Homo sapiens: one gene and its partner. The protein of the gene in region 1 purifies or fractionates together with the protein of each later gene. This does not show direct contact. Each region holds a gene or a part of one and is shown in the gene's direction. Other genes may lie near its edges.

Region 1 (11,714 bases):
TCATAGGTTTATGAGAAGATTCTACAGCATATAAAAAGAAAACACAGCACTCAAGATGAGGAAGAGGCTGGGCGTGGTAGCTCACGCCTGTAATCCCAGCACTTTGAGAGTCTGAGGCGAGTGGATCATTTGAGGTGAGGAGTTCGAGGCCAGGCTTGCCAACATGGCAAAACCCTGTCTCTACTAAAAATACAGAAAATTAGCTGGGCATAGGCCTGTAGTCCCGGCTTCTTGGGAGGCTGAGGCAGGAGAATCTGTTGAACCTGGGAGGCAGAGGTTGCAGGGAGCTGAGATTGTGCCACTGCCCTCTAGCCTGGGTGATAGAGTGAGACTCCATCTAAAAAACAAAAAACAAAACTACTTTATGTTTGCAATAAAAATTCAATAAAAAGGCCGAGAATATGGGGGTTTACGCCTGTAATCCCAGCACTTTTGGAGGCTGAGGCAGGATTGCTTGAACCCAGGAAGTTGAGGCTGGAATGAGCTGAGATCACGCCACTGCACTCCAGCCTGGTCAACAGAGTGAGACTCTGTCTCCCCGCCCCCCCCCCCCAAAAAAAAAAAAAAAAAGCCGGGCGCGGTGGCTCACGCCTGTAATCCCACCACTTTGGGAGGCCGAGATGGGGGGATCACGACGTCAGGAGATTGAGACCATCTTGACTAACATGGTGAAACGCTGTCTCTACTAAAAATACAAAAAATTAGCTGGGCGTGGTGGTGGGAGCCTGTAGTCCCAGCTACTCCGGAGGCCGAGGCAGGAGAATGGCGTGAACCCGGGAGGCGGAGCTTGCAGTGAGCCGAGATTGCGCCACTGCACTCCAGCCTGGGCGACAGAGCGAGACTCTGTCTCAAAAACAACAACAACAACAACAAGACAAATGGATACTAAAAAACAGGTAATATATGAAGTATACAGATTGAGGTAAAAAGGAAGAGCTGGCAGTAAGGCAAGTAAGAATCAAAAGAAACTAGACAAGGTAATGAAAATCTCTAAGAAAACAAAAATACGTCTTGCTCTGTCCCCTAGGGTGGAGTGCAGTGGTGTGATCATAGTTTACTGCAACCTCAAGTTCCTGGGCTGAAGCAATCCTCTCGCCTCATTCTCCCAAGTGGGTAGGACTCTAGGCACATGGAACCATGCCTGGCTAACATCCTCACCTGTTCTTTTCCTCATCTGTTTGTTTTGCACCATATTGTTTAGTACATGGTAGTTCACTACATACTGATTGAATAAAGGAACACTCTCAAATCAATTCTTAAAAATAAATGCTCCAATGGAAAAATGGAAGAGGATACAATTTAGAAATGAAGAAATATACACAACCAATAATTACTACATTATAAACTCTGTGAAGGAAAACACATGTCCATCTTCTTTATCATATTTCCAGTGCCTAGCATTGTTTTGGTATATAACAGATTCTTAATAAACAACTGATGAATAAATAAATGAACAAGAAAAATTGTTCAGCCTCACTAATTTAAACAATGACAACAAAAAACACCATTCCTACCTAACAAAATGAAATCGATTTCTTTTTAAACTGCACAAACTCAGTGCTGGCAAGGGTATGGAAATACTTAGGATTTAATGCCTTCTTTTAAGATCAAAAGCTCTAGCTGGGCACAGTGGCTATGCCTGTAATCCCAAGCCTTTGGGAGGCCGAGGGAGGAGGATTGCTTGAGGCCAGGAGTTCAAGATCAGACTAGGCAACATAGAAACACCCTGTCTCTACAAAAAATTAAGAAATAATTAGCTGGCTGTGGTGCTGTGCACCAGTTATACAGGAAGCTGAGGTGGGTGGATCCCTTGAAAGCCTCAGGTTATGATCATGCCACTGCACTCCAGCCTGGGTGACAGAGCAAGACCCTGTCTCAAAGAAAAAAAAAAGGATACAAAAACCACCAAAAGCTCCTTGAAGGCAAGGAGTGTAACTATTTTGTTTATTGTAATAAACTTTCTAAAGTCTAGCACATGGTGCTTAATAAATATTTGTTTACTGGATCAGTGAATGGAGAACAAATCAATATCAATCTCCTGGAGGGTACTTTGGCTCTCTAGCTGTAAAAACATTCATACCTTTTGACCTAATTATTCCATTTATAACAACGTAGCCTTAGAAAGAAAATCATGGGGCCAAGCACGGTGGCTCATGCCTGTAATCCCAGCACTTTGGGAGGCTGAGGTGAGTGGATCACCTGAGGTCAGGAGTTCAAGACCAGCCTGGCCAACATGGTGAAACCCTGTGTCTACAAAAAATACAAAAATTAGCCGGGCATGATGGCGGGTGCTTGTAATCCCAGCTATTCAAGAGGCTGAGGTGGGAGAATCTCTTGAACCCGGGAGGTGGTGGCTGCAGTCAGCCGAGATTGTGCCATTACACTCCGGCATGGAAGACAGAGTGAGACTCCGTCTCAAAAAAAAAAAAAAAAAAAAAAAAAAAAATCAGGCCAGGCACAGTGGCTCACACCTTTAATCCCAGCAGTTTGGGAGGCTGATGCGGGTGGATTGCTTGAGTTCAGGAGTCCAAGACCAGCCTCGGCAACATGGTGAAACCCTGTCTCTACAAAAATAAAAAAATAAAAAAATAAAAAGCCAGACGTGGTGGTGTGAGCCTGTAGTTCCAGCTACTCAGAAGGCTAAGGTGAGAGGATTGCTTGAGCCCAGGAGGTCGAGGCTGCAGTGAGCTGAGGTTGTGCCACTGCACTCCAGCCTGGGCGGTAGGGCGAGACACTGTCTTAAAAAAAAAAAAAAAAAAAAAAAAAAGAAAGAAAATCAAAGAAGCACACAAGAGAATACAAGAGAATATTCATTCTAATCATATAAAAAGTAACATTTAAAAATAAAACATTTGACAGTAAAGCACTGATTACTAAGCAACTACTAAAAGAATATTTTTAGAGAATATACAATGAAATAGGAAACTATGGAATGAAAAAAATAAAATATAAATATATAATGTGATCTAATATAGTAAAAAAGGTACTTATATATGGAAACATGCTAAAAGGAAATTGATCAAAATGTCAATAGCAATTATCGCTGAGTGGTAGAATTATAGCTGATTTTTATTTTCTTCTATCTACTTTCTTCAATGAGCACATAATTACTTTCTTAAACAAAATCCAAAACCAAAATCAACTGGAAAATAAGAAGACAAGGCTCAGTTTAAAAGAGAAAATTAGGCTGGGCGCGGTGGCTCACACCTGTAATCCCAGCACTTTGGGAGGCTGAGGTGGGCAGATCACCTGAGGTTGAGAGCTCGAGACCAGCCTGACCAACATGGAGAAACCCCATCTCTACTAAAAATGCAAAATTAGCTAGGCGTGGTGGCACATGCCTGTAATCCCTGCTACTCAGGAAGGCTGAGGCAGGAGAATCGCTTGAACCTGGGAGGCGGAGGTTGCGGTGAGCCAAGATTGTGCCATTGCACTCCAGCCTGGGTAACAGAGCAAAACTCCATCTCAAAAAAAAAAAAAAAGAAAAGAAAGAAAGAAAATTAAAAATTAAAAAAATCAAGAAACGTCTTTTTTTTTTTTTTTTTTTTTTGAGACTGAGTCTTACTCTGTCTCCCCAGATGGAGTGCAGTGGTGCACTCTCGGCTCACTGCAAGCTCCGCCTCCTGGGTTAAAGTGATTCTCATGCCTCAGCCTCCCGAGCTGGTATTACAGGTGCATGCCACCATGCCCGGCTAATTTTTGTATTTTTAATAGAGACGGGGTTTCACCATGTTGGCCAGGCTGGTCTTGAAGTCCTGACCTCAAGTGATCCACCTGCCTCGGCCTCCCAAAGTGTTGGGATTACGGGCATGAGCCAGCATGCCTGGGCAAGAACTGTCATTTTTTTAAAAAGGACATGGTTCTTACAAGTTCGCTTCTGCTAAACAGTGGTTCTCAAACTTGAATGTGTATTAGAATTACCTGAAAGGTTTGTGAACAGAAACTGCTGCCTCTGCCCCTCCCTCTTACTCAGTAGGTCTGGATGGGGCCCCAAAATTTGCATTTCTAACAAGTTCCACTTCGCTAAAAGACGGCAACATAGAAAGCCCATATGGTGTAATGAAAATGATGTGGGTTTTGAGGTCAGTCTTGGCTCTGCCCTTTTTAAGATGTTTTGTAGAAATAGTTGACAGACTCTAATCCTGCTCAGCCTCTGTTTCCACACCAATAAAAGTAATGCACACTTCATAGATGTATTGTGAGGGTTAAATGGTATGATTAAATACCCAACATAGTGCTTGACTCAGTTAAGGATTTTAATTAATGGTGGTCCCCTTTCCTTTGATTTCCTCAAAGATACAGCACACTGGGTTTATGGTAACATGATTTAGGTGTACCACAGGTCAAATCATTTCCTTCAAACTTAACAAACCATACATGTTCATCTGCTACTAACAAAATCTTCATTGTTCATCTATAAAATTGGGAATAATAGTGTAACAGTATTTTCTTTGATAAAATAGATAATACTGTCTACTTTGTAGGCAACCATGAAGATTAAATAAAATAATATCAGTCAGGCACGGTGGCTCACATCTGTAATCTCAGCACTTTGGGAGGCTGAGGTGGGAGGATCACCTGAGTCCAGGAGTTTGAGGTCAGCCTGGGCAACAAAGCAAGACCCCATCTCTATTTTTTATATAATTATTTTTTTTAAAAAGTGGCTGGGCGTGGTGGCTCATGCCTGTAATCCCAGCATTTTGGGAGGCCAAGGTGGGTGGATGGCCTGAGCTCAGGAGTTCAAGACCACCCTGGGCAACATGGTGAAACCCTGTCTCTACTAAAATACAAAAAATTAGCCAGGCATGGTGGCACACACCTGTAGTCCCCGCTACTCGGGAGGCTGAGGCACAAGAATCGCTGGAGCCTGGGAGGCAGAGGTTGCAGTGAGACGAGATCACGCCACTGCACTACAACTTGAGCTACAGAGTGAGACTCTGTCTCAAAAAATAAATAAATAAATAAATAAATAAATAAATAAAATAAAAATAAAACAATAAAACAATATATATATATTTTTTAAATTCCATAACTGGCATATGGAAGATACATAGTGTTAACTGAAGAATCCCAAGGTTTATAAATTTGGAGAGGGGAGCTTTACTTTTTATAAAGGGTTGCAGCCTGCAGGCTGGTGATCCTGACAGGCTGGGAAGTGTAGACTCTGGCAGAGACTGAAAGCAGGTATTTAGAGGGAGGAAAAAGTGGAACACAAATTTATGCCAAATGAGTTGGCTAAGAATACACACTTAAGTTACAGGAGCTTTGATTATTCACAAAGCGGGGGGCAGCACATGCATGCATAGTGAGCAAACATGCATGTTACATATGTCCTATGTTCTCTTTGGGGTGGAGATTTAACATTTAAATGCATTACAATTAGGTGAAGCAAAGGACATGAAGACACTCAGTGCACAGCCTCTGAAAACCAGCCAGAACCAGTCTGTGGTTGGTAGTCTCTTACTAGGATGTTACTGAAATCAGTCTCTTGTCCAATCAAAGAAATAGTTATGGTTTGTGGAACAGGGGTTGGGGGGATACAGTTAGTCAGCATCTAGTGGTCAGTGAGCTACAATTGATTCAATATTGCTTATCTCCAGGCCAGTGTCTATTTAGCTACCAGAGAAAAAGAAAAACCTTGTGGCAGTTAGAAGATGGTTTACTCTTCAAGTGTAGGGATGTGTGACTTAACCCTTGCCTGACACAGCCTTAGGTCTTGTTTATAATTTGGCATCTTATTGCCTCAAAGAGTCTGTTCCATCGGTCATATGATCACTATTGTAACAATAGTAAATGGCACTTTCTTTTCCCACTCCCTTTGACTATTTACCCATAGCATCTTCCACACCTAGTTCAAAATTCATCTAGGATACTTCAAATCAATCTTTCCACCTTAATCAGATAGCTCTGTTTTGTGTCACATTTAAAGTAAATTATTTACTTTAAGTACTGCTAAGAACACACTCTATGTAAACTATTATACTGGATGCCCAAGGAGATAAGTAGAAGATGGTTCTCTGGCTTTGAGGTGTTTGGTTGAGACAGCAATATACATTAAAAGTTGAACAGGAATGCAAAGCAGCATGGGACAAATTATACAGAAAGTGTGATAGTTTTGAGATTATAGTGGCTGATCTGTTCATTATTTTGTACTCAGGAACTAAAAAATTACTAAGAGTTGTAAGAGCTCTGGTTTTATAGCTGAGATAATAAGCCCAGTGACACAAGTGGTCTAGGATCCCAGCTATGAAGTGGCAAGAGGTTTCCTGTCTCCTGGTCCTATGCTGCTTGTGCGTGGGTTTCTAACTATTCACGAGTCTTTTAATCAGTTAATGTTTGCTCTCTCTAAGTAGACAGTTTAGTATAGCCAGGTAAGAACTGGGCTTTGAAACTAAAATGTTTGGGTTTGAATCCTGGCTTTGCTATTTACTGTGTGACTTTGGGCAAGTCACTAATCTCTTTGCTTTACTTACCCACCTATAAAATGAGTATAATAATGGTACTTTACTTCATAGGGTGGTTGTGAGCATTATATACTTAATATATGTAAAGCATGAAAAACTGTGGATTTGTCATTATAATTGCTATTAGTCTGTGAGGGAATGGAGGGCAAGGAATCTAGTCATGTTTTTTGTTTTTTAAACCTCTTCCCTCAGCTTCTGATCAGAGCATTCACGTGGGTGTTAAATAAATGCATGTTAGCTACCTTAAGCATATTGGGAGTTTTTGTATCACTGAAGTAAGACTTGAGATTTGTGTAAGCCTGGACTAGTCTGGTACCAGAGAAGTCTAGAAAGGTAAAAACTGAGATAGCATCAGATTGATTTTAGGACCTAGCACAGCTTGTTTAAAAAAGTCAGTCAAGACAAATAAGTGCTGAGAGAAATGGGGGTCAATGAGTCTAATTCCAAATGAGCTTTCTCATCTATTTTAAGATCTGCTTCAAACTTCCTCAGACAAAAATCTGGCCTTTTAAGGAAAGTGCAGAGAACATGCCTTCGTGGGCTTAGTTTGAGGGAATAGGGGCTGCATTTCACCCTGGAGGTGGCTACATGAATTCGTGAACTGAGGTGACAACACTGACTCTCTCCGGAAGAAAAGATGCTATCTCTTCACGGAGTTTAATTACAATGGCACTACTTGAAACAAGCTGCAGCAGCAGCAACAACAAACGCTACTGTTAACCCAGTCACAGCTCAGCTCAATATTCAGATTAGAGAAAGCAAGAACCATTTTTTTCCCTGGGACACCCTTCTCTACTCAAATACCCGCTGAAAAAAAAATTCTGAGACAAGCACTAGGGAGTGGGGAAAGCGGGCAGAGATGAACAATAACCCATATTCAGGGGTTAGAAAAATAATATTAATAAATCATGGTAGGTTTTTTTGTTTGTTTTTGGCAGCAACTTGCCACTCTTCAGCATCATCCATCAGGAAATCTAGGTCGGAAAAGTGTACCAACTGACCTTCCAAATTTTCTGCATTTGGCAGATGCAAATCACACAGTCCATCCCCGCCCTCAGCACTTGGACGGTATCAGGGAAACGTAAGTATCAATGGAAGAATCTTGAAGTGAAAAATAAATAACTGGTCAGGTTAGGGTTAGTGTTCTTGTGTGCAAGGGAGCTAGTGAAGTTTAGGCTTTGATGCGCACCCACAGCGTCAGCAAAGGAGGAGGAATTAAGGGACAGCATGGGCCGAAAAGCCCCCGAGTTTTGAGGTCAAGCCAACGGGCTGGGTCTCCGGTATCCTAGGATCTGCCCTGCACACAACCTTTGGCAGTTTCTCGGTTTGAATCTCGCCTGTACATTTCCAGACGAGACACTGTCTTACTGAGCGTTCTCACAGCGCCTAGCTCAGAGCTGACCGCAGAGCCGGCTCTCAATAACATCGAGACGCAAAAGCAGCTTTTGAGGTTAGGGGCGGAAGGGCATCGGTTTTACTTATTTCAAGGCTGGCGCTCGGTGCAGCCGGATCCAACTGCCAGCACAATGTTCCCGATCACTTCTCGCTTCCATTTCAGCCCAGGAGACGTCGGGAAACCCACAGGACCCGCTAGGGGCTAAGCGGTTAAGCCGCGTCCTTCAGGTGTCAGTCTCGATCCGTTCGGAAACCACAACCTCCAGAATCCCTTGTGCCAGGAGGCCAGGCCGCAAATAAGATGGCTCCAGAAGGGTGGAACATACAGCGGGGGGGGGGGGGGGGGAACTTAGTTGTTGGCAGTTTCTTCACGGGATGTGTTTAAATTGCCGAGTCCCCACATACGCGCCACCCCACAAATCTCCTTCGAGGCCGTGGAGGCCACACGGCTGCCGCCTCGCCCTCTCCTCCAGGAGTATGCTGGGATTTGTAGTCCAGCAGCCGGACTGTGCCGAGCTACCTTTCCCAGCTTGCCCTGCGGCTCGGGTGATATCAACAGTCTTTTCCAGAACTCTGTCTGCACTGAGACCCTCTTCCCCCAGTCCTCTTCTCGCGGTCGACTCCTTCCCATCCGTGGCGACAGAACGGCGGTTGCAGGAGAGGCCCCGGTCCCTCGCCGCGCCGCCCCGAGGGGCACTTCCGGCGGCGGTTCACTTCCTGGTTGGGTGGATGGAGCCGGGCGGGAGCGCGCGCGGGGGAGGGGCGGCGGGTCAGTCTCCGCCCGGCGCTCCCGGGATCAGCTGGCGGGCGGGCGGGAGCCGAGCGCGGCCCCGGCTCTCGCTGCAGCGCCGCCTCTTCTCTGCGTCGCAGGCCGGCCCGGCGGCCGTGACAATGTCGCGGGGCTGGTAGCAGGGCGCCGGCCGCCGAGCCGTCTCAAGTGGGTGCTGCCAGGATGCCGCCTCGAGGGGCGGCGGGGAGACCCGGGAGGAGCGGGAGGCAGTGCCCGGGAGGGTCGGCGCTGCCGGAGCAGCTCGGATCCCTCCTTTCTCCGAGCTCCCGGCTCGGGGGTCCCGGGTTCTGGGGCCGGGGTCGCGTTTTCAGCCCCACGGTTTTTCTCGCCGGGAAAATACATGAAGCGTTTCCCCAGGATGATGGCTTTTGCTCCCCCTAGGACTCAGCGGTTGAATTTTTAAGCGTGTTACTGATTCATCCTCTCTTTCTTCCTCTGTCATCACAGGTTTAAACTTACACGAATCGCTTTCTGGAGGAGGAGGGGACCCGCTGCGCGATTGACACGCATATTCCTATAGGCATCCTCCCTCAGCCCCCACCCCCACGGCCGGATTCGGGTGGCTCCTCTCCGAGGTGAAATCTGAGAAGAAATCCTTGGATCTCTTTTCTTAAAAAAAAAAAAAAAAAAAAAAAATCTAGAAACCATCGGTATTTTGCTTTGCTGCTCCCTATTCGCAAGATGAAGAAGTTTTTCGACTCCCGGCGAGAGCAGGGCGGCTCTGGCCTGGGCTCCGGCTCCAGCGGAGGAGGGGGCAGCACCTCGGGCCTGGGCAGTGGCTACATCGGAAGAGTCTTCGGCATCGGGCGACAGCAGGTCACAGTGGACGAGGTGTTGGCGGAAGGTACGGTGGGGCTCAATGCGCCGTAAATTAAAATCTTGTGCTGATGCGGCAATACTGTGGTTTCTAGTTGTTGCATGTATGAATGGGCTTTGACCAGTTGACCCTCCCTTCCCCCTTCACTTGCCCTGTGAGTCATTGTCCTTGAGAGATTTAAAATTGAGATTTGAAAGTGACTGGGCTTATGGGGGTGTGGGGAGGTTGCCGAAATTGTTTACGTTAGTGGCCTTTTATTTTTATTTTTTTAATATTGAGAAGCCAAATTTTGAGGATCACACAAGAAAACGTATGTGTGAAAGTGTAAAGCTTTATGCCAAAGGCAGGGTGATGGGCTTGTCATCCTCCTAAAACTTAAAATCTTGATGTGAAGGCTGAAGGGTGGGGGGACTTTTAAGAAGAGAGGGGTTTCTCCTTCTCCTACCCAACTTTCCCACTTCCATGAGCAGGCATTGGAAGGAAGAGAGGATTTTCGGAGAACGTGAACGTGTTTTTCCAAGGGCCAAGGCTCTTGGTGGATTTCACTAGTAGATTTGTTTCCTGACCCAACTGTAATCAGGTCCCCAGGTTATAGCAAAGATAACAGAAATTACATAAAACAAATGTGGTTATTTTGAACTCAGTCTAGTAGGCCCCTCTTCCTTCTCGCTTTAGGTTTTGTTTTTTGTTTTTTTAATCAAAAGAAAAATTACTTGAGAGTGGCTCTGATTTTGTTTTTTCGCTATCAGAGAGGATGTTATTTAGATCTGCTGCATAAATTCCCTCTGTGTTTCATCTGTGTGTCTATACTCACGTAGATATACATCTTGATTCCCCCAGGCTTTCGGGAAATCTTTGCATGTCTCTTTTGGTAACCTTAACCTCGACCTTCATAATTATGCCAGACTCATACTTTTCACAGCCCTTCGCCTGCCTAGTGTGCTTTTATTTTTAATAAAAGCAGCAATTTCCTTGGCATGAAGCAATTCAGACTGATTGGATGGGGCCAACCTGCTGTAGGTTGTGTTATAGACCGAGAGGGGTTGGAAGAAGGGAGAGGTCTCTCTTACTGCAACATGGTGATGGTAGGGAACAGTTTTATTAGCAAGGGAAGAGAGAAAGCTAAGAGGCCTCTTTAAAAAGGGGCCTTTTGCAAGCTAAAGTTGAAGCAAGGGTCCTGACCTGGGCCTGGGAAATGCTTACCATGGTGGATGTTGCGGGCTGGTGGGTGGGTTTGGAAGAGGAAGAAGCTGTGTTTGGCTCTCAGCTTGTGTAAGCACTGGATTCAGCAGGGCCCAGTTTTCTGGGAATAGAGTTGAAGTCTGTACTTTAAAAACATGATTTTTAAAAAAGATCTCTGACAGTTAATGTCCATGTGAAATTATTGCTCTTCCAATCTCAGTACTGTTCTAGCTGCGCTTTATCTGGGGCCAGAGTCACTGTCCCCTTGGATCTTTCCCGTGGACTTTGGTGCAGGCTAGGAGATGCTTCTGTGCCCGCTGCCAGATCCGCACCCTTGAGTCTGATCTGTCTCTTTCATCCCTGTGCCAAAGCCCTTAACTGCAGTGGGGTGGAGAAACAGTGAAAAGGAGAGTGTGTCAGAGAGAAATCAGGAGAAACGAAGGGCCACAGAACACTTTCCTCCCCTCTGAATGGCCTCTGCTGACCTTATAGCCCACGAGCGTTTTGTTCAGCTAGGATGTTGTCTCATCACGGATGATGCTGCCCTAAGCGGTGCATGTTCTCCAAGTGTGAGAGAAGTGATAGGGAAAAGAAAAGGCAAAATTGGTCTTTGTTACCTAGGCTGCCTTCCTCTTCTCTGGGATTCATCTTTGAGAACTGCGCATCACGTATTGTGATATTTTTACACAGAATTTAGGACTTGTAGCTCTGCATTTATTCATTCAACAGTTTATGGAGTTGCCTGTGAAGTGCCAGGTGCTGTGCTAGGCTCTGGGGGTATACTGTTAAACTAGATGCTAGCTTTTACCAACTGCTTTAAGAGATGGAAAATAGCCAGTTATAGTGGATTGGTAAATGCCATCATAGAGATAAACTTAGGGTGCAGTGGCCCCCAGTTTTAGGGAGCCCAGGATTTCTGAAGGAAGTGACTGAAGAGTGAGTAGGAGTTAGTGTGGTGGCACCATGGGCAAAGACAGAGTAGCGAGAGAGAATGTCACGTAAAACTGGGTCTGGCTATGCGCCCTTTTTGTGTTCTTTGGCTTAAGTTGAGTTTGAATTTGTGGCT
Region 2 (11,640 bases), on another chromosome or scaffold:
CCACTTTCCTCTGGAGATGTTCTGTACCAGGTATTGTGTTAGTTAGCAAAAGAGGGCACCACAGAGTTTGATCCTAGTAGATCATCAGGAACATGGAAATCTAATAGTTGAGTGTCAGAATAACTAGCAATAACATGTCAACTAGAGAAGCAAAATAGTAAAATTCTGAGAAAGGATTGGATAATGATGTTCAGTGATTCCTGATCCATTTTTCTCAAGACACTTCTTCAGAGAAAAATGGTTCTCTCAGTATTCACTGTAAGCTGATTGAATGCTAGATGTGGTTAATAGTACACCTGGCAACTTTTACATATATGGGTAGAATAAATAGAATAGCCAACATGGTATCAACAAAAAGCTTCGGGGTTTAGACTGGGAAAATTAGCATTTCATGATATGACTGTTATGTGGAAGAATTTTTGCATTTTTCCATTTAAGATTGGCTAGGAAGAAATTGTGTTCCTCCTATTTAAATCATCTCTAGGTGAAGATAACCGACAATAAAGTAGTATTGTAGAGTCCTGTCTCTTCTGTTGGAACCAGTCTACTACTTCATTTCAAGAATGTGGTCTTTATATGCCCTTTAGATTATTAGAAAGAGATTGGCTACTATTCTTCTTTGCTGTGTGCTTCTTTTTTTTTTTTTTGCATGTCTTGCTGTTTTGCTAATTTATTGACCCCCAACCTGCTCTAACTCACCTTCCTCATTTCTGTCACAGGGCTTCCCACCTCGACTGCCACCACAGTACCCAGGAGATTCAAATATTGCTCCCTCTTCCAACGTGGCTTCTGTTTGCATCCATTCTACAGTCCTATCCCCTCCCATGCCGACAGAAGTACTGGCTACACCTGGGTACTTTCCCACAGTGGTGCAGCCTTATGTGGAATCAAATCTTTTAGTTCCTATGGGTGGTGTAGGAGGACAGGTTCAAGTGTCCCAGCCAGGAGGGAGTTTAGCACAAGCCCCCACTACATCCTCCCAGCAAGCAGTTTTGGAGGTAAATAGAATTACTGCATGTTTATATGTAAAACGTATATATGTAATTGGACAACAATGATAAAGGAGAAAGAAACAGGCTCCCCTGGTTTAGAACTTATTTGGAGACCATGTCAAACTAACTTCTGCATGACTTTTTCTTACAGCAGAATGAAATGCCAATGTGGGGTCCTTGTTTCCACTGGCTGTTCTGTTGGGAAGTGAGTGTGCCTTGGAGAAGATGAACCCTATTAGCACTTCACTTCTCTAGCTAGTACTTTAGCCATTATTCTTGTCCTTTCACAAACTTTTTCCATTGGCAGTCATAAGAGTATCTTACCCTCCTGTGCTCTCAGCAATCATTTTTGCCCTGCTAGGAGAAGATCTGAATTCATCTTTGTACTATGCTCTGTCTGCGCTATTGCACACTCTTGGTAAGATGCTGGCTGCATGGCAAGTTGTAGGTTCACACTGCCTAGCAGATATGTTGGCTGACCTCATACCATGCAGTCTATACCAGAGACTAGCTTTAGCAACTTCCTTTGGAATTTTAAGACCATTATCTCTAGATGCTGAATATTGAGAATTTACTAGTAAATTTAGTGCTTCTAGGACGTAGTGGGGAGGGATAAGGAAAAAAATAAGTAGATTATTGGGGATAGTGAATGATAAATCTATTACTACCGAGATTTGAGTTATCTTTTCGATTCACAGAGTACTCAGGGAGTCTCTCAGGTTGCTCCTGCAGAGCCAGTTGCAGTAGCACAGACCCAAGCTACCCAGCCGACCACTTTGGCTTCCTCTGTAGACAGGTACGTAAAACTAGAATTCTCCTTCCTTGACTGGTAAATAAGACGGTATGAAACGCCAAACTGTCAGACCTTTAAATCTCATATTATAAACTGCACTTTTTTTTCTTTTTAAATTTCAAAGTGCACATTCAGATGTTGCTTCAGGTATGAGTGATGGCAATGAGAACGTCCCATCTTCCAGTGGAAGGCATGAAGGAAGAACTACAAAACGGCATTACCGAAAATCTGTAAGGAGTCGCTCTCGACATGAAAAAACTTCACGCCCAAAATTAAGAATTTTGAATGTAAGTATTCCTAATTTGTGAGTTTCATGTTGTTAAAGGAATTTGACACTGAAAAAGATTTTAGAGGTCATCAAATCCAAACCACTCACTTCATAAAATAAAGATAACTATCTGTGTGTGACAGATAATTTTTTTTTTTTTTAGACGGAGTCTCGCTCTGTCGCCCAGGCTGGAGTGCAGTGGCATGATCTCTTCTCACTGTGATTGCAGTGCCTCCTGGGTTCAAGCGATTCTCCTGCCTCAGCCTCCCAAGTAGCTGGGACTACAGACACGTGCCACCACGCACGGCTAGTTTTTGTATTTTTAGTAGAGACAGGGTTTCACCATATTGGTCAGGCTGGTTTCAAACTCCTGACCTCAGGTGACTCACCTGCCTCAGCCTCCCAAACCACTGGGATTACAGGCACCCAGCCAGATAATTTATATAGTACTCTTCTCATTTCATGCCCACAGTCTCTTTGACTTAAATATCACATTTTTAGAAAAATGAAAAGGTAGTTCATAAAGCTATGATAGGGCCAGCAGTTAATATCATTTAAATATTTCTTAAGGCTTAGATGAATTGATGAATGTATAGGATCTTATAATTAGCCAAATGATATTCTTACATTCCATATTTCTATGATAAAGCACTACTTATCTTTTAGAAAAAGAATAGAGAGTTTTAGTAAGTAGCTCAAAGGCTAACGTCTTCTCAAAGATTTTTCTTGCTACCAGTTTAAGAGACAAAGTACTAGTGCTCCAAGGAACAGCGATAACACTATGCTTCCTTAGACATAAAGTCAAGTGCTAATCTGCATTGCTTTTCTGAAATTCAGTAATAAAGCTGAATATGGTCTTTGGAGATGATGTACCTTTTTTCTTTTTAGGTTTCAAATAAAGGAGACCGAGTAGTAGAATGTCAATTAGAGACTCATAATAGGAAAATGGTTACATTCAAATTTGACCTAGATGGTGACAACCCCGAGGAGATAGCAACAATTATGGTACGTCTGCATTTGGAGTTCTAGGTTTTTCCTTAGTACTTGATCTTAATAGCCATTGCTCTAGGCAAATATGCCATATTTTATAATCCATGTTTTTTTAAAGTTATGCATTTACTTCAATGTGAATAAAACTATCACACCCAACCTGTGATTTAGTGATGTTTTTGTCTAGGCTATGTCTAACTAGATATTGAAGTTCTTAAAAAGAGAAGAGCTAACTTGAGTACAAAATAAATAAAAATATAGGTAAGTATGCAGATAGGACAGAAGTCATAAAAGTGACATAAAGTTTGAGAAATGACACTAATTAGACTGACATCACATTTCTTTTACAGGTGAACAATGACTTTATTCTAGCAATAGAGAGAGAGTCGTTTGTGGATCAAGTGCGAGAAATTATTGAAAAAGCTGATGAAATGCTCAGTGAGGATGTCAGTGTGGAACCAGAGGGTGATCAGGGATTGGAGAGTCTACAAGGAAAGGATGACTATGGCTTTTCAGGTTCTCAGGTAGGTTCACCACTCCCATAGTGAAACTTTGTTGATTTAAAATATTTTCATAGTTCTAAATTTGCTATGCAAAATGTCCAGTGATATCACCTGACACCCATGACCGACAACAAACTTTTATGTTCTCTTCACATGTGGCAGTTTGCTTTGCCTAGTCATTGAGATTGCATTTGAGAATGTATTTAATCACTTTTGTTTGTTGTAGAAATTGGAAGGAGAGTTCAAACAACCAATTCCTGCGTCTTCCATGCCACAGCAAATAGGTGAATTTATTTTCTTTCCTTGTTTTTACCTTTGACTTAAGAAGCCATTAGCCGAGGGTGGTGGCAGGCTTCTGTAGTCCCAGCTACTCAGGAGGCCGAGGCACGAGAATCGCTTGAACCCAGGAGGCGGAGGTTGCAGTGAGCTGAGATCGCGCCACTGCACTCCAGCCTGGGTGAGAGAATGAGACCGTGCCTCAAAAAAAGCAGTTGTATGTGCCAATAATGAAGTCTAACAATATTTATAATAATAATGCTATTAAGTTACGTTTGTTTGTTTGTTTTTGACCAGGCATTCCTACCAGTTCTTTAACTCAAGTTGTTCATTCTGCGGGAAGGCGGTTTATAGTGAGTCCTGTGCCAGAAAGCCGATTACGAGAATCAAAAGTTTTCCCCAGTGAAATAACAGATACAGGTAAGGGATTGATTCTGCCACATTGTTATGTAAATTCTACAGTGCCTCTGCTATGTTGAAAGCTTAATCATAAAGCAGTAATTTATGATGACACAGATAATAAAAAAGAATAGAAAACTGAAGTTATAACCAACAGATAAACATATGGGAGAGGGAAATAGATGAAGAATACAGAGAATTACAGAAAAAGCCAAGAAGCACGGCCATACCAAGATATAGTCTGTATAATAGATATTGTAGTATGTGTTTATTTCTGCACTTAGTACTGTTGTCTATGTTTTAAGATTACTCCATATTTTTTATCAAAAACAGATATTTATAGGAGCTGACTTAGGCTAGCAGACAATCTTTTGAATCCATCCTTTTAAAATCAGCTGATTCTTATCTTTTTGTATTCCTTTGCAGTTGCTGCCTCTACAGCTCAGAGCCCTGGAATGAACTTGTCTCACTCTGCATCATCCCTTAGTCTACAACAGGCCTTTTCTGAACTTAGACGTGCCCAAATGACAGAAGGACCCAACACAGCACCTCCAAACTTTAGTCATACAGGACCAACATTTCCAGTAGTACCTCCTTTCTTAAGTAGCATTGCTGGAGTCCCAACCACAGCAGCAGCCACAGCACCAGTCCCTGCAACAAGCAGCCCTCCTAATGACATTTCCACATCAGTAATTCAGTCTGAGGTTACAGTGCCCACTGAAGAGGGGATTGCTGGAGTTGCCACCAGCACAGGTGTGGTAACTTCAGGTGGTCTCCCCATACCACCTGTGTCTGAATCACCAGTACTTTCCAGCGTAGTTTCAAGTATCACAATACCTGCAGTTGTCTCAATATCTACTACATCCCCGTCACTTCAAGTCCCCACATCCACATCTGAGATCGTTGTTTCTAGTACAGCACTGTATCCTTCAGTAACAGTTTCAGCAACTTCAGCCTCTGCAGGGGGCAGTACTGCTACCCCAGGTCCTAAGCCTCCAGCTGTAGTATCTCAGCAGGCAGCAGGCAGCACTACTGTGGGAGCCACATTAACATCAGTTTCTACCACCACTTCATTCCCAAGCACAGCTTCACAGCTGTGCATTCAGCTTAGCAGCAGTACTTCTACTCCTACTTTAGCTGAAACCGTGGTAGTTAGCGCACACTCACTAGATAAGACATCTCATAGCAGTACAACTGGATTGGCTTTCTCCCTCTCTGCACCATCTTCCTCTTCCTCTCCTGGAGCAGGAGTGTCTAGTTATATTTCTCAGCCTGGTGGGCTGCATCCTTTGGTCATTCCATCAGTGATAGCTTCTACTCCTATTCTTCCCCAAGCAGCAGGACCTACTTCTACACCTTTATTACCCCAAGTACCTAGTATCCCACCCTTGGTACAGCCTGTTGCCAATGTGCCTGCTGTACAGCAGACACTAATTCATAGTCAGCCTCAACCAGCTTTGCTTCCCAACCAGCCCCATACTCATTGTCCTGAAGTAGATTCTGATACACAACCCAAAGCTCCTGGAATTGATGACATAAAGACTCTAGAAGAAAAGCTGCGGTCTCTGTTCAGTGAACACAGCTCATCTGGAGCTCAGCATGCCTCTGTCTCACTGGAGACCTCACTAGTCATAGAGAGCACTGTCACACCAGGCATCCCAACTACTGCTGTTGCACCAAGCAAACTCCTGACTTCTACCACAAGTACTTGCTTACCACCAACCAATTTACCACTAGGAACAGTTGCTTTGCCAGTTACACCAGTGGTCACACCTGGGCAAGTTTCTACCCCAGTCAGCACTACTACATCAGGAGTGAAACCTGGAACTGCTCCCTCCAAGCCACCTCTAACTAAGGCTCCGGTAAAATTATTGTTATAAAATAATTAGATAAATATGATCAGTTTTTTTTCTCCCTAATGAGTACATTTTTCACTTCAGCCTTGTAAGTTAGAAACATATTTATAAAGGTACCTGGCTTATAGTATTTATTAAATTGACAGCAGTTTGAGGGTATATCTACAATGAACATGAGATTTTTTTTTCAAGTGTGGCAGGATTTTAGGGTTAATTATGCTGCACAGTTTTCCAAGATGGTATAATTATCGGGTAAAATACAGGTATTTCTTCTGAATTGGTACAAACTGAAGAAGTCTGTATCCCAAAAGGGAGCTAAATGCATCTGTCAGCAAAATGTACGTAAATAATAGCAGTTCATAGTCTTTGTTTCAGTGAGAATGAAGCAAATTTTTGGTTTTGTTGTAGATTCCACAGTTGTACAGTTTGGGGGTTATAAAAAATTGGAAGTTAGTAAGGAAATTGATACAGAGGAGAAATAAATAATCTAATCCTAGGACTGAAGTAACTAAAATTTATTATCTAATTATGCTGTGGTGGATTTCCTCTTGTTCTGCCACCTTCTCCAAATAACAAGGCTGTGTTACGTCTACTGTATTGTATGCTTCAGCCTCTTTCTGCATTGCCATTGATGTGAGGTTCTTTTTATAGTAGGATAATGCAGAATCTTCACTCAGATAAAATAGAAATTCTTGATAATAGTATTAGATTTCTGATGCCTTTTGTTATCAGACCTGCCCATTGGTTATTTCTTAACCAGTTACTGTTTTCTTTTCTCAGAAAATCTTGTTTTACATGGCGAAAGTCTGATACATACTGTACCAAATAAGTAGCTCAAGAATATCTGGACACTGCCACTTATGTACATATAGCCTTTGTTCTGTTCTCCCTAGGGGACAACTTTTTACTGTATTTTACTATTCATTTTATAGGTATATCGTAGTAACCCCTATAATAACAACATTAGTTGTCACACCGTTTTTTTAAGACAGATACCAGAGAGTAACCTCAGTGATAAACATGTCTTAACTATATATATTTTATTCTTATGTTTGTGCATTCAAATTAGTTGATTTGCTCTTCAGTACGCAGTCTTTATATTTAGCGTCTCACGGACTTGATTTTCCCTTTGTTGTCTGTAGGTGCTGCCAGTGGGTACTGAACTTCCAGCAGGTACTCTACCCAGCGAGCAGCTGCCACCTTTTCCAGGACCTTCTCTAACCCAGGTGCCTCAAGACTTGACAAATTTCTTCCTGTGCCCTACTTTCTTTGACAAAGCTTGCTGAAGTTCTCCACTACGTGGTCTTGGCTTTTGCCTATTTGTCTTTGACTTAGTAACACCTTTCTTTTAAAATGTTATAACCAATGACCCAGTTCCTACTTAAGTAAGAAGCTTCATAGCTCTTTTGTTTGTAATGTTGCTTCCGGTTATCCAAAAACACTTGATACTAATTTTTTTTTTATATCTTATGAAGGAAGAAAACAGCAAAGCAAACATTTTGTCAGACCCATATAGCTCCCTTTATCACTCACACTTCTGTAGAATAGCGAAATTGCGTATATAATCAAAATTAACTTTGAGAGTGCCCTAGAAAGGAGAAGCACAATATGGCAACTGAGAAACTTTTTCCGCGAGTCCAGAGCAACCAGTCTCTTCTTGAATGTTGATCATTTCTTTCACTAGCCACCTAATGAAGGAATTAGCTTACTTATAGGTAGGTATAGGGGTGATGTTTCATGAAAACTATGTGTGCTGTCTCTTTTAAAATAAAAGCCACCGAGCTCAGTGAGATGCTAACATTATGAGATCACTCATGGAGGAACTGAGACCAGCCTCATGAACTTGAGATTCCCATCTCACACAGTTCTGCTCACTTGAGTGCAGTGGTGGACAGAATTACCTGTAATATTTATTATTTCTCTTTCCCACCGCAGTCCACCGCCAACACATTTGTTGAATTTCCATAAGAAAAGTACTAATTGTGAATCTGTTGTGACCAGGAAAAATCTTCTGACATGAGACAAGCCAGTAAACTTTTAAACTAAATTAGGAATTTATTTTTGAATCATATATAAGAAATAAGAAAAACATGGTAAATTGCTTACTTGAGAAGCTGAGTTGGAATTTATCCCTATTTCTTTGGTCCCAATGTACAGGGGAACACTATTTGAGGAACTTGCCACAATGAAGTAAAAACCCCAACAGAGAAAGCACTCCATCAGCCACCACATTTGGGGGAAAGTGCATTGTGAAAGTCCGTAAATCAGGAGTTAGAAAATTAGTTTTAAACTTATTTTCTCATTTAAAAACATGGATTCAGATTTCTAAGGGAGTATAAAGTGTGACAAAAAATAGCAAGTGAGACATGTGGAGGGGTAAGGGTAAATAGCTAGTGCCTAGATAGAGGGAAAGGCCTAAGCAAAGACTGTGCAAGAATAGATTGATAGAAGCCAAGACAGATGTAGGATTAGACTGTGGAAGGGTAGAAGGAAGCTGTGTGCTTGCGGTGGATGGAATGGTTAACAGGATGGAATACCCAGACCTCCTTGCCACCATCTGTAGGGAAGAAGTATACATGTAAGAAAGAGGAAAATAATACCCTGTGATAGTGACAGAATATGTTAATGCCATCTTTTATTCATAGGGGCACCTTCCCAGAAAGATGTATAAAACTGAGAAAGAAAAGAGGGAACATGAGATACAGTGAATCTACCAGTAGATCTTTGTACATTTTTCACAATATATTTTAAAGGTCGCACAAATAAATAACTCTTTCTACCGTTTTGAGTAACATCAAACATAGAATGTAATAAGACTTCTCTTAAACTGCAAAAACATGAACTACTCTGAGCCTTGAGAGTCTGACATACAATCTTGAGAAACTGGCAAAATAATCAAAGCAGTACACTAAATTTGAGTATAGTTTTGTATGTTCCATAAAGACAAATGTTATGTTGTGCCAATATAAAGCATAAAACAGTGTGTCCTATCTAAATTGGCTATATATCGTGACTCTGAAGGTGCCACGGAACTGTATTTACTGTGATTGTTTTCATTCAGTCCCAGCAACCTCTAGAGGATCTTGATGCTCAATTGAGAAGAACACTTAGTCCAGAGATGATCACAGTGACTTCTGCGGTTGGTGTAAGTTTTGAAAATCTTGATAAAATCTCCTCATAACCCTAATATATTATATGCCTGGGACACAAACTGTAACCTAAACCATTATTAATACCTTTAACATGTATTCAGAGTTCCTGCTTATTCTAGCCAAAAGAAATGAGACTGATTAATGAAAGATTCATGCTGACTCAGGAGTATCACTATGGAAAAGATTTTATTTGAAAGGTGCTTTTTTAGTTGTACGTCTGGTCAGATTGTGCCATAGATCAATTCTATGGATTTCGTATTTTTGTTTCAGAGGAGGCTAAATTTTGTCAGATAAAATAATGTTTTGGGCTAGGTGCAGTGGCTCACGCCTGTAATCCCAGCACTTTGGGAGGCCGAGGCGGGCGGATCACAAGGTCAGGAGATCGAGACCGTCCTGGCTAACACGGTGAAACCCCATCTCTAGTAAAAATACAAAAAATTATCCAGGTGTGGTGGTGCACGCCTGTAGTCCCAGCTACTCGGGAGGCTGAGGCAGGACAATGGCGTAAAACCCAGGAGGCAGAGCTTGCAGTGAGCCGAGATTGCACCACTGCAGTCCAGCCTGTGTGACAGAGCGAGACTCCATCTCAAAAATAATAATAATGTTTTGATTGAAACTGTTTTTCTGTGAATATCCAAGTTATACCCTTAAGCATCCTATGAGAAAAATTAAGAAAGCAATCAAGAATTAAGAGTAGAAATTCATTCTTTTAAAATGTACCTTTTTTTTTTTTTTTTTTGAGACAGGAGTCTTGCGCTGTTACCCAGGCTGTAGTGCAGTGGCACGATCTTGGCTCACTGCAACCATCACCTCCCAGGTTCAAGTGATTCTTCTACCTCAGCCTCCCGAGTAGCTGGGATTACAGGTGCCCGCCACCACACCCGGCTAATTTTTGTGTTTTTATTAGAGGCGGGGTTTCGCCATGTTGGCCAGGCCGGTCTCGAACTCCTGACCTCAAATGATCTGCCCACCTTGACCTCCCAAAATGCTGGGATTACAGGTGTGAGCCACCATGCCTGGCCCTAAAAGGTGCCTTTCTTTACATCAGACTTTTAGACTTTAAAAGAAAAAGGAAAGAAGATAAAATGTTCTCAGACATAAGTGTTTCATCACATATACTGTCTTTCTGCCCTTTTACAAAGACCATAGGAAAGGCAACGAGGCAAAAGTTTGAGTGACTGAAGCTAAAGATTTGTGGTGTCTGTCTGTGTGTGTTTTACAGCCTGTGTCCATGGCGGCTCCAACAGCAATCACAGAAGCAGGAACACAGCCTCAGAAGGGTGGTGAGAAACATCCTTCCTCCTTTTATATTACTAATTCCAGCCCTACCCGTAGTTGATTCAGGAGGTTTACCGTTTCAAAGACACATTTCCACGTATTTGATAACTGAGGAGCATTGGTAGTAATATCTAAAGCTTGAAAGATTAGCAAATTAATAAATCTGTTCCGTTATTATTTGTCAGAGGAAAGGTTATACAGGAGGTAATGATAAGACCCTTCATTATTAGCTATGCCAGATCCTTGCTATTAGAGATTAGGAAATTAAAGCATACTGTATTTAGAAAAGTAAATTTACTGATAACCTCTTAGCTTTTGTGACACTGGATATATAGGGATAGAAGCTTGAATAGTCTGGACATATATTTGTATTGAAATACAAATGTAAGATTTCAGTTAATCAATTTAAACATTTTTATTTTCAAGGCAATTATATTCTCAATTGGCTCTCATTTTAAAAGTGATTTGCAAATCATTAGAATGGTCTAGAAATGGAAAAATGAAAGGGGAATGTAGATTATCAAAATATGTAGAGTATCAAGTATGTACAATGAAAATAATAAAGATTACTACCAATAAAAAGAGAATGTAGAATATGAAAAAGGTAGCTTTTCAAATCATTGGAAGATGGAATATTTCTTTTTTTTTGAAGTGGAGTTTGCTCTTGTTGCCCAGGCTGGAGTGCAGTGGCATCATCTCGACTCATTGCAACCTCCACCTCCCAGGTTCAAGCGATTTTCCTGCCTCAGCCTCCCAAGTATCTGGGATTACAGGCATGCACCACCACACCTGGATAATTTTGTATTTTTAGTAGAGACAGGGTTTCTCCCTGTTGGTCAGGCTGGTCGCAAACTCCTGACCTCAGGTGATCTGCCCGCCTCGGCCTCCCAGAGTGCTGGGATTACAGGCGTGAGCCACCGCGCCTGGCTGAAAGATGGAATATTTTTATAAGTGGTTTAGAACAACTTGAAAGCCATCTGGAAAAAAGCAAAGGTGGATCACTAGCCTAGACATAAGTAAAGTCCAAGTGGACCAAAGATGAAATATTATATCATAAAATAGTACTATATGAAATCATAAGGGGATTTTTTTTCTTTTTTTTTTTTTTTTTAGTTTTTTAATTTATTAGTAAT

The links.
Region 2: the proteins of AAK1 (region 1) and WNK1 purify together in Homo sapiens (affinity purification with mass spectrometry; 2 studies listed by BioGRID and IntAct, with this or other methods). This does not show direct contact.

The regions. Positions count from the first base shown.
Region 1 is NC_000002.12:69,640,657-69,652,370, reverse strand, and holds the start of AAK1 (AP2-associated protein kinase 1), read left to right. Parts: upstream 1-8,631; 5' UTR 8,632-8,796; intron 8,797-9,096; 5' UTR 9,097-9,330; coding exon 9,331-9,493; intron 9,494-11,714.
Region 2 is NC_000012.12:880,002-891,641, forward strand, and holds part of WNK1 (serine/threonine-protein kinase WNK1), read left to right. Parts: coding exon 1-30; intron 31-719; coding exon 720-998; intron 999-1,690; coding exon 1,691-1,788; intron 1,789-1,909; coding exon 1,910-2,072; intron 2,073-2,941; coding exon 2,942-3,058; intron 3,059-3,393; coding exon 3,394-3,567; intron 3,568-3,772; coding exon 3,773-3,830; intron 3,831-4,119; coding exon 4,120-4,242; intron 4,243-4,647; coding exon 4,648-6,083; intron 6,084-7,219; coding exon 7,220-7,303; intron 7,304-9,138; coding exon 9,139-9,222; intron 9,223-10,451; coding exon 10,452-10,512; intron 10,513-11,640. UniProt on the Homo sapiens protein: Serine/threonine-protein kinase component of the WNK1-SPAK/OSR1 kinase cascade, which acts as a key regulator of blood pressure and regulatory volume increase by promoting ion influx.